2 separate regions of the Homo sapiens genome follow, and region 2 is linked to region 1. The links come from fine-mapping of genetic effects on gene expression. A gene starts in region 1. The other region holds a variant in brackets. All regions are shown on one strand. Distances are from middle to middle. Region 1 holds the start of AGTPBP1 (ATP/GTP binding carboxypeptidase 1). Region 2 overlaps AGTPBP1 (ATP/GTP binding carboxypeptidase 1).

Region 1 (5,389 bases):
AACATCTGAAGTTTAAAATTCAGTGCCCACCCTACAAAATTTATGTTGTTTATACTGAAACCCATTGCCTAAGGAAAGCTCCCATCTTGCAGATGGCCCTCTGACAGGTGCATCCATTGCTATTCACGCACTGTTCAACTTTCAGATAGTGGGGGACTTCAAGCAAGAAAAGCAGATTTGGGAAGATGAATACTTTGGATGAGGTTTAAAAAAATTCAGGCCAGGACGGGCGTGGTGGCGGACGCCTGTAATCCCAGGACTTTGGGAGGCCGAGGTGGGCAGACCACCTGAGGTCAGGAGTTCAAGACGAGCTTGGGTAACATGGTGAAACCCCGTCTCTACTAAAAACAAAAACTTAGCCGGGCGTGGTGGTGTGCTCCTGTAATCCCAGCTATTCGGGAGGCTGAGGCAGGAGAATCGCTTGAACCCGGGAGGCAGAGGCTGTAGTGAGCCAAGATCGTGCCACTGCACTCCAGCCTGGGCGACAAGAGCGAAACTCCGTCTCAAAAAAAAAAAAAAAAAAATTCAGGCCAAGCTTGGTGGCTCACGCCTGTAATCCCTGCACCTTAAGAAGCTGAGGCTAGTGGATCACCTGAGGTTGGGAGTTCGATACCAGCCTGGCCAACATGGTGAAACCCGTCTCTACTAAAAACACAAAAATTAGCTAGGCGTGGTGACGCGCGCCTATAATCAAGAAGCTGAGGCGGGAGAATCGCTTGAACCCGGTAGGGGCAGGTTGCAGTGAGCCGAGATCGCACCACTGGCACTCTAGCCTGGGCGAGAGAGTGAGACTCCGTCTCAAAAAAAAAAAAAAAGTAAAATACAAATTACAAAATTTCATAACTGTTGGACCTCTTTTCCTTCTGCTAATGGAAGTAAAACCATTATTATATAGCAGCCTAGCCAGACTTTTCTAAAGAGAAGAATGCCTCAATTCGGAAAAGCTTTATAAAAATTGCTTCTACAAAAGTTTAATTAATAGATTTAAATGCTTTGCAATGTTGGCCAAATACGAGGGTAGTTTTAAGCCTATCCACTTCATTTCCGAGTTCAGAGTGAGTCTGCAGTTGTAATTATGTGATTAATCAATTCAAGGCAGAGTTTTGTGATCATTAAAAATGAACCTGTAACTTCACCATAGAATTTAACTTAAGAGAAGTGGAATGGGAAAAAGAGCAAGTCATATTAGAACTCTGCCTGCATGATGAGAAACAGTGGGTAAGGCACGACTTATTATTTCGCAGTAATTCTACATAGGAAATACAGATCTTTCAGAGTTTTGTTTGGTTTTGACATTTGGCACATGTTTTAAAATAAGCACCATTTAAAGTTCCTTAAATAAATCATTTCTTTTTTGGCCTACTGAACTAAAAACATTCCACAATACAATTACAAAAATAACTTTCCGGTTTTCTCAGACAACCAGTTTATAAGAATAATTCAGAAGTTCACAAAGGATAATTTGATTTACATAAAGCTTAAAAAACGGACATAAAAGGTAAGTGAAAATGACCGATTAAGAAGACTGTTAAGGTCCTTTCTAACTACAAATTGTCATGCATTGTAATTAAACACAACTACAATGTTAAACACCTGAAGGAAAAAACCCACATAGAATTAATACTGCCAAAGAAAATTTCCGCTATCTTCAGGCACTTGAGTAAGCTATGTTAAAACGGGAAATGGGCTTTAAATTATCAACATTCACATCGATTACACTATGATGCATGAAAACTCCATTCTACAATGAGTAAACGCCCAAGAAAGGAACCCAACCAACTCCAATTGCCCTGGTGCTCGTAAGAGGTTTATACCGCACAAGGGGTAAAACAACGGTAGAGTCGAGCAAGCCTTTGGGTTACAACAGTCCTTGAACACTTGCAATTGAGAACCCGCAATTCAGGAAGGAAGACACTAAGGAAACTCTGCACTGTCATCCAGGGTGATCTGATTCAGGTTCAAACCAAACGCTCAAGGCGACAAGTTGTAAACAGAAGACACACTTCAGCTCAAACCACCCAGCGAGAGGAAGCAAACGTGCCCATCGCCGATGTCACAGCAAATCCCACCTTGCTGGCGCTCAGTCGGGAACGCTAGAATTCTCGAAGCACAGGGGCCCGCGATTCAGCGGCCCGCTACCACTGGGGCGGGGGAGAGCGGGGCTGGGCGCGCCCGCCCCCGGCCCTGCAGCCCCTCGGCTGGACTCCCCGCGGCGCCGCGAGCTCGGGCCCGAGAGAAAGGGCTGAGCAGAAAGGGCGGCCTCCGCCCAGAGACCGCGCCCGATACCCTCCGCAAGGTCTGGGACGGGGATCCACCGAGGGTCCGGGGACTGGGGAAGGCGTTTTCCAGACCCAGTCAAAGCCCCACCCCGTCAGGGCTTTCCCTCAAGACCGAGTGCGTTCCCCTCACGCGTCACATGTGTAACATGCGTTACACAACCCGTCAGGTAAGGGGCGCAGGGATCCGGGGTCGCCCCTCCTACCCCCGGGCGCCGTCGCTCGCATCTCCCGCGGCCCGGGGAGAGCAGAGGGACGGCCGGCCGGGACATGAGGACTGCAGCAGGGCGCTCACCGGCTCAGGATGGGGCGCTGGCGGGGACCGCGCAGAGCCGCAGCACCCGGCTCAGCACCTGGATCACGGCGGATCCCTCGCCGCCCGCCGCCCGGTGTTTTCATACAAACCCCGGTGGCAGGCGAGGCGGAGGCGGCGGCGGCGGCAGCTGCGGCGGCGGCGCTGGAGGCGGCGGAACCTGTCCGCATCCCGGGCAACGTCAGCGCGGCGCCCCGCCCACCGCACGCCTTGCCAGCCGGCTCCCAGCACGCGCAGGGAGTGGGGGCGGGGCGTGCGAGGCCGCGAAAGGGGCGGGGCGGAGCGCACGCCCTCTTCCCGCCGCGTCCCTTGTTACCTCCGTGCGCGCTGCGCCCCGCCTCTCTGCGCGCCTGACGGGAGGGAGCGCGCGCGTGGGGGCGGAGCGCGCACGGGAGCGGGAATTAGGGGCGGGTGTTCCGCGCGCTGCCGGTCCCTTGTACCCAGCAGCCCCGGCCACCGCCCCTCCGTACCGAACTGCGAGCGACTCCCCACGTTCTTCAAGTCATCTTTCTGTACACTCCCAACGAGGGCCCCAGCCTTTTCCCGGAACTAAGCCCGCGCCCACCCCCTCCCCCGCCATCAATCAGTCACTTTCTTAGGAAGGGTTCTTAAAGCTCCCCACGTGATCCCGGGGTCGCATCAAACGCTGGGGACTGCGGTAAAGCTTAGACCTTTCCTGACCTCAAGGAGGGTCCATAATAAGAGGCTGGAAGGGACATGCTGTTACTACAATCGGGCTCCCAGAAAACAACAGGATTGCACCTTGTGGCCAAATCTCAGTAAATTAGATGCCTAGTGCTGCAGCGAACAAAATAGCATGCTGATTTACTGTTTTTTGAAAAAGTGCCTGCATATAATCAAAACGGTAATGCTAAGTTGGCTACTGAAGGCAAAGGCGGAATGTTTTATCTGAGCCAAAGTAATGTGTCAGAGAAATTACTAATACACCCCCTTCTGTTTTGACTGTACTTCAGTGTACTGCAATGTATTGCAAATAAATACTGACATCATTTACTTTTTCACGTTGCACAAGAACATGTTTGCTACTGTTTATGGTAAGGAATGTAATATCACAACTAGATAAGGGAATGCATTGAGAACTGTGAGATTTTTGTTTTGTTTTATGATCTTGTTCAAATAAAATTAAGCAGGTGTGAAAGCAATTCAAAAAGTAACCCAAGGTACACCACAGTGCTTCTTACAGTTTGCCCTTGGTAGATGTCTTTATTCAGATGAACAAGAAACTGCCATTTTATAAACATCGTAGTTTCCCTCATCGTGAGCACTAAAAGATAGGTTACGGTATTTAAAATAATTTTGAAACAACCACCACCCCAAACCACCCAATCAGAAACGTATTATCTGAAAATACCCAATAATAATGTAATAATTTTACAATAATGCTAAATATGTATGTAATATACCTGAAACTTTTCTTAAAGAACATGTTTCTAAATGAGTCAACCTGCAATATAGGAAGATATTATGTGGATGTGTGTGTTTGTGGAATTTGAATCCCACTTTCACAAGCACTGTTAGCATAGTTTGATGACCACAACACAGACCCAGGAGATTAACCCACACAAGATAAATAGCAGCATTACATAGCTTTGAAATGATTCCAATCACATAGTTTGCCACAAGAGTGAGTGATTTATGTTTTGCGGTAATTAAGAACTTAGAGCTACTCCCCCACCCCCTGGGAATGTGACATCACTCTTCATCAGATCCCACGTGTATGAAGTTGAAATAAACTTCACCTCTCCTAGCTAATGTGACGTTACACCTTATCAAACACCATATATATGTTACTGACCTCAACTACAGGATTTCGAAATACATATAAACTCAAGAATTTGCAAGATACTTTGAGAGCTCAGCGGGTGGCAGATCGCGTGCTCTGTCAGCCACTTCCCTGAACGCTACCAGCTCAGGCTGCAACAGGGCCACACCCTGTTAGCCTTTAAGCTTTGAAGCCTGTCCACCAACACTGGCACAGCCCTCTAGCATCGTGGGACCTTGCATATCCTCACCGATCTCCTGTATGTTGGACACCATCTCTCCCGAGAACCTCAGCCTCCAAAAGGTAAAGGTACACCTCAGTTGTTTTTCTTTTTCTTTTTCTTTTTCTTTCTTTTTTTTTTTTTTTTGAGACAAGACTCTCACTCTGTTGCCAAGGCTGTAATACAGTAGTGCAATCATGGCTCACTGCAGCCTTGACCTCCCAGGCTTAATGAATCGTACTACCTCAGCCTCCCACTGAGTATCTGGGACTACAGGCACACGTCACCACACCTGGCTAATTTTTTTAATTGTTTTTGTAGAGTCGGGGTCTCCCTAAGTCACCCAGGCTGGTCTCAAACTCCTGGGCTCAGCAGTCCTCCTGCCTTAGCCTCCCAAAATGCTGAGATTACAGGCATTAATACCACACCCACCTCAATCCTTAATCAGACTTTACTTTCCACAGAGGTCTGCTTCAATCTTAATTGAACAACTAGGTTTTAATAGTTTTGGAACTCACTCACTATGTAGTTAATAAACATCATCTATGGAGTGTATTCCCTGTGAAATTATTCTCTTAATTCTCTGCCTCTATACATTGTGAACCTAAGAAAATAAATTATCTTCACATGGCAATAAACCATGTTGATCCAGGATTGTTTCCTCCTTAGCTCAGCTAGATCCAGGTTCTTGTCTCAAGACCAGGAAAAATCAGGTACACGGACACTTGAAGAGTGAGTGAAGTAGAATTTGTTAAGCAAAAGGAAAGCTCTCAGCAAAGAGAAGGATCCTGAAAGCA
Region 2 (5,389 bases), 96 kb before region 1:
ATGTAATTAAAGAATAATTACTGAATAAATACTGCATTAATTTTATCTTAAATTCAAATTTGCTTATTGTTTTGGGGTTGTTGTGTTATTGTTGGGTAGTTTTGTTTTGTTTTTGTCATGGTTACTCTAATATAACAGAGTATTCTGGCTACTCAAAACAGAAAAACTTGTGTAAAGATCAAGACTCCATTATGAAAAACATACATATATATGATGATGGTGATAATAAAACAGCTAACATTAAGCACTGAAAATAAATGAAACACTATGCTAAGCATTTTACATCTATTATCTAATTTATTCTGCATAAGAACACTATGAAGTTACCCCCATTTAACTGAAGAGGAAAATGAGGTACGGAGAAGTTAAGCCATTTGCTGAAAATTACACATCTTGCAAAGACAGGAGCCAGGATAAAAACCAGTTAGAGTGATTCTGAAGCACCACACTGTCAGCCAGCATCACACACTGCCCCAATACAGATTAATGATGATCACACAATCTTAGAGTGCATGGGAAATAAAGTTCTTTTAGAAAAACTCAGTGTCACCATTCACTCTGTTTTCAGTGGGGGAAAAAAGTCAGGAGTGGAACAAGAGCCAGAAATGATTTCCATGTCTCTCTAGGAAAAAAAGCAGGTGGATTTAAAGGAAAAGTATGTCCTCAGAGAAACAAGATATGTATCCAGGATCAATGTGTTCTAAATGCTCTTCAGAGAAGAGCTAATGAATCCCATGATAAGAGGGCAAATGTCAGATTATCTACTACCCAAGCTATTTTCTAGGATCCTCAATGACTCTGGCCTCACACAAACTAATTATTATCTTTGTTATGGCTGAAGAGAGATAATAATACCATTTAATAATTTTCAGTTGGTACTTATTTTTAATTTTGTATTTACTTACTACCAGAGTAAGCTACTTATTTTTCAGCCTAATTTACAAGTATATTTTACTATGCTTCAATCCTTAAAAAACTTTATATACATGTATCTGACCATACTTACACATATTAACTACTAGTTTAAAAGAAAAAAACATATTATGTATTTCTTATTATTTCATATTCAGGAATTTAGCTATTATTTACATAGCCAATGAAAAAGATTTTCCTCATTGATATGCATAATAGAGATTGATTTTATTTAAATGTTATCATATTAATCACTGTATCATTATTGTATACTTATTATTACATTAATATGTAATTTAATCTCTTTAAATTATACATTTAGGAACCAATAATGTAATAATTTTCTTAACATCTAATAGAATACATAATGTTTCTAAAATAAAAAATAATTTACAAAGATATTCTTTTCTCTAAACATACTAGTTCAATATTTGACACTATTTTGTGAAAATATGGCCTTACATAGTGGCTATTTGGAGAGGAAAAAAAAAAAAAAGGCTTTACCTGTAAAACAGGTATAATGGGGAAAGAAAACTACAACACTCCGAAAGCTCAACAGCAGGGAATTTTGTGTTTGGTTTAAGAAGAAACAGTAGTGAAGGACTACTTACAGACTCATTAGAAAAAAACAAAACAACCTGCTACCACTCCTTAAAAGTTCTGCTAGTTAAGGAAGGAACAAAGAATGCACTGAAACTTATATACGGTCAAGTTGTGGCTAGCTGGAGATGAATCTTCTAGAAGCTACCAGTTTCTATAAATGCTCCAAACTCTGAAAAATCTGGGACAAAGAAAATGGAATCACAGGAAAAAAAGTTATAACCATAAGAGAACACAAATAAATAATACCCCCACTATGATGTAGCAGTTCACCTGAAGGATGAAGGAATAGGATTCAGATAAAAAAAGGAAAAATTAAGTAACGTCTAAATGTAAAGTCAATGAGAGTAAGAGGCAGGCAGCAGTAGGAAAGAAAAAGAAGATAATAAAGCTCAGCAGTCTCAAAAAGCCAACAATTCCATAGTTCTTGAAGAAAAATTATATTTTAGTACAGTATAGTGATAAAGAGAGTGGACATTCCACTAGACTGCTTTCTGAATCCTGGCTCCACCTCTTATAAACTAGACTGAGAACCTCTCTCTTCCTCTGTTTTCTATGTACTTATACAACCTGTATTTACCTCATAGGGTTGCTATAAGGATCTAATGGTTACTATGTATATGTAAAGAGTTTGGACTACCACAGTTAAGTGTTCAATAATAAAATG[T/C]ATTTTGTTCTTATTGCTATAACTGCTCTGTTAAGATAAAGTAGGGAAAACGTGAGCAATCACTGATACCCCAGTGAATAGTGAATAATGCAAGCTAACAACTACATTTTCCAAAGATGTCAATGTTATAAGACAAAGAAATCTGTAGAAATGTCCCAGATTAAAGGAGACTAAAGAGACAAGATAATTAAGGGCAATACCTGATGCCAGGACATAGATGTAGTTTAGATTGGCTAACTTGACAGTTTCGCCAAAGCTTACCTTGGTGATCACATTTGCTGGTTATAAAATGGGTTCTGTATCTATTAAGACAGAAATCTTCCAATATCTTAACTTCTATCTCCAAAGTGAATCGAATACTCAGTGTACCCCAATTTTGATACAGTTTTGCAAGACAAAAATTGGTCCAAACAGGAAAGAGTCAAATTAATCCCTCCTCCCCCATAAAAAAAACCCAGCAATAGGCTAAACAGCTAAAAAAAGAGACCATTTTTCTACAGATGCTAGAGTAGTCCTCTCTCTATAAATAAAGCAAAATACAGACTTTCTAGGCTTCCAGAGGTACAATGAAACTCCGAAAACTTACTTGCCACCTTTACCTAACATCTTATGTAATATGACAATAATTTTATATTTTCTCAATAATACTTTTTTCACTTCCTTGTTCAATTAACTGAAACCTAAGAATCATTATGCAAACACTAATTCTCACAAAAACAAATCCATTATAGAATATTTTCCTACTGTTTTTGTATCCCCAAAAGACTGCTGACAAAGGATAATAATGCATTTTGAAATAAGTTGCCACAAGAGAGTTTCAGATCACTTTCCTTCAATTTTGTAGATTTCAAAATCTAAGGCAGAAAGGTTAGATAAAATCTTTCTGGTCAGAGAGAGTGAAAATAAGTTACTTTAAGGTCCTTTTCAGACCAGTGGATTTAAACCAATATCATCTACCCCTTTAATTGCATAGTCATTCATGGTAAAAAGATGTGGACAAAGTAAAACCTAAAATTACATATATATTTATTTACCCAATTTTTGTTTTACAACTGTAGTATATCATTTATAAAGCTAACTAATTACAGAAATTTATACTAACCTTAAAATTTTGATCTAGGTCATCTTCATTCTCAGTTTCGTTTTCAGCTTCTACATCAATATCATCGTTGTCATCACTTTCATCTACTACGTCATCCACTATGATACAAAATGTGCTATAAGTAGGTCAGAGGTAAGCATTCTACAATATGCATAGCCAATGGTAGAATGTGACTTATATAAAGTATTTCAATCACCAGAGAAAAAGTAAATGAGATTTCTTATTTAACATCTCTCTAAGGCTGTCCCAGCTGTTGACAAACCCATGGGACCATATAAGAAAGTGCTTCAAAATTTGGAAAGCACTGTAAAGGTGAATTTTACTAATGTTCTCAGTTTTTAAAAATAATGTCTTATGTTGCGATAGCCTGAATGAAACATCCTGTTTTCTATTTATTATAAATTTCAATGACTCACTTCATCCCTTTATAATTGACCCCCTATTTGTTTCAATGACAGTCATGTGCCACATACTGTGCTATATGCTGGGAATTTTTTCAAAAGATGTGTAAATCGGGTTGTCTAATCTTTTTGTTTCCCTGGGCCACACTGGAAGAGGAAGAACTGTCTTGGGCTACACATAAAATACACTAATACCAACGATAGCTGGTGTGCTTAAAAAAAAAAAATTACACACACACACACAAATCTCATATTGTTTTAAGAAAATTTATGAGGTCAGGCGCAGTGGCTCACGCCTGTAATCCCAGCACTTTGGGAGGCCAAGGCAGGCAGATCAGCTGAGGTTGGGAGTTCGAGACTGGCCTGACCAACATGGAGAAACCCTGTCTCTATTAAAAATACAAAATTAGCTGGGCATGGTGGTGCATGCCTGTAATCCCAGCTACTCGGGAGGCTGAGGCAGAAGAATTGCTTGAACCTGGGAGGCGGAGGTTGCGGTGAGCCAAGATCGCGCCATTGCACTCCAGCCTGGGCAACAAGAGCAAAATTCTGTCTCAAAAAAAAAGAAAGTTTATGAATCTCTGTTGGGCCACATTCAAAGTCAATCTGGGTTGTATGTGGCCCATGGGCAGCATATTGGACATGCTTGGTGTAAATATAGTCTCTTCCTTCAGGTAGCTCATGAGGTTAAAGAGCAGAAAGGAGTAAACATGTAATTATAATACCAAAGATAAACACTAATGAAGCCATAAACTCCAAAATACTATGGGAAAATGAGGAATGAGGTGGCTCATGAGGTCAAAGAGCAGAAAGGAGTAAACACGTAATTATAATACCAAAGATAAATGCTAATGAAGCCATAAACTCCAAAATGCTATGGGAAAACGAGAAATGCAACAACTAATTGTAAACTGCTTGGAGACAAGGGGCTTGATGCTGACCACTTCACAGAATAGGTGATATTTAAGCAGTATCTTGTAGAAAGTATAACAGATTTCTATGTGAATGTAATGGTGGGTGAGTGTGGCTTCTAAGAAGAGGAAATAATACTACTAAAATAAGGAAGTGAAATGATATCTTTAGAAAATAACAAAAGGTATGACTAGGATGAAGAGTATGCTTATGAAAGTACTGAAAGGAAAATAAAGAATTAAAAAATGAAGGATGTAACATAGTAGGCCAAGTAGTACTGACTTTTAATATAAAGAAGATAGGCACTGAGAATTTTCAAGACAAGAATGGCTTAATTCAATTTTAAGAGGTGAGAGAGACAGCATACGGGTGGAAGGTGACCAACAAACAGGAAAAGAAAAAAATTCCATGTTGTAGCAGGATAGCACAGGGGTTCTAGAAACAGAATACCTGAATTCAAATCCTAGCTCCCGAACTTACTAGCTATTTGACCTTGAGCAAGTTACATCAATTCTTTGTCTTCGTTTCTTTGTCTATAAAATGGAGATATCTACTCATAGTGTTTCTGTGGGCATTAGAGAAGTTAATATACGTAAAGTGCCAGGCAGAGTATGTGTTACACAAATGTTTATTACTGCTGTTGCTTGAGGGACTGTGCTACTGGGTCTCTTTGTAACAGCAGTTTAGTCGACCCTAACTAATACAGGTACAAATATAAAAACAAATCACCTCAAATTCTTAGATAGCAAAAAATAAATATTCATATTTCACATGGTAACCTGGGTTGATTTATAC

The links. PIP is the estimated chance that this variant, and not a neighbour inherited with it, causes the effect.
Region 2: its variant is the best candidate, but not a certain one, in a credible set for the expression of AGTPBP1 in whole blood (INTERVAL, PIP 0.71).

The regions. Positions count from the first base shown.
Region 1 is chr9:85,739,204-85,744,592 of GRCh38, forward strand. It overlaps AGTPBP1 (ATP/GTP binding carboxypeptidase 1), which reads right to left and starts at 2,751. Exons shown (of 26, transcript NM_001330701.2): 1 at 2,572-2,751. RefSeq lists an enhancer at 1,765-1,914 and silencers at 2,085-2,404, 2,475-3,074.
Region 2 is chr9:85,643,040-85,648,428 of GRCh38, forward strand. AGTPBP1 (ATP/GTP binding carboxypeptidase 1) reads right to left here. Exons shown (of 26, transcript NM_001330701.2): 12 at 3,282-3,379. Among named protein-coding and RNA genes, the nearest start is that of AGTPBP1, 96 kb to the right of the region's middle. The variant T/C (reference allele first, on the strand shown) is at 2,180.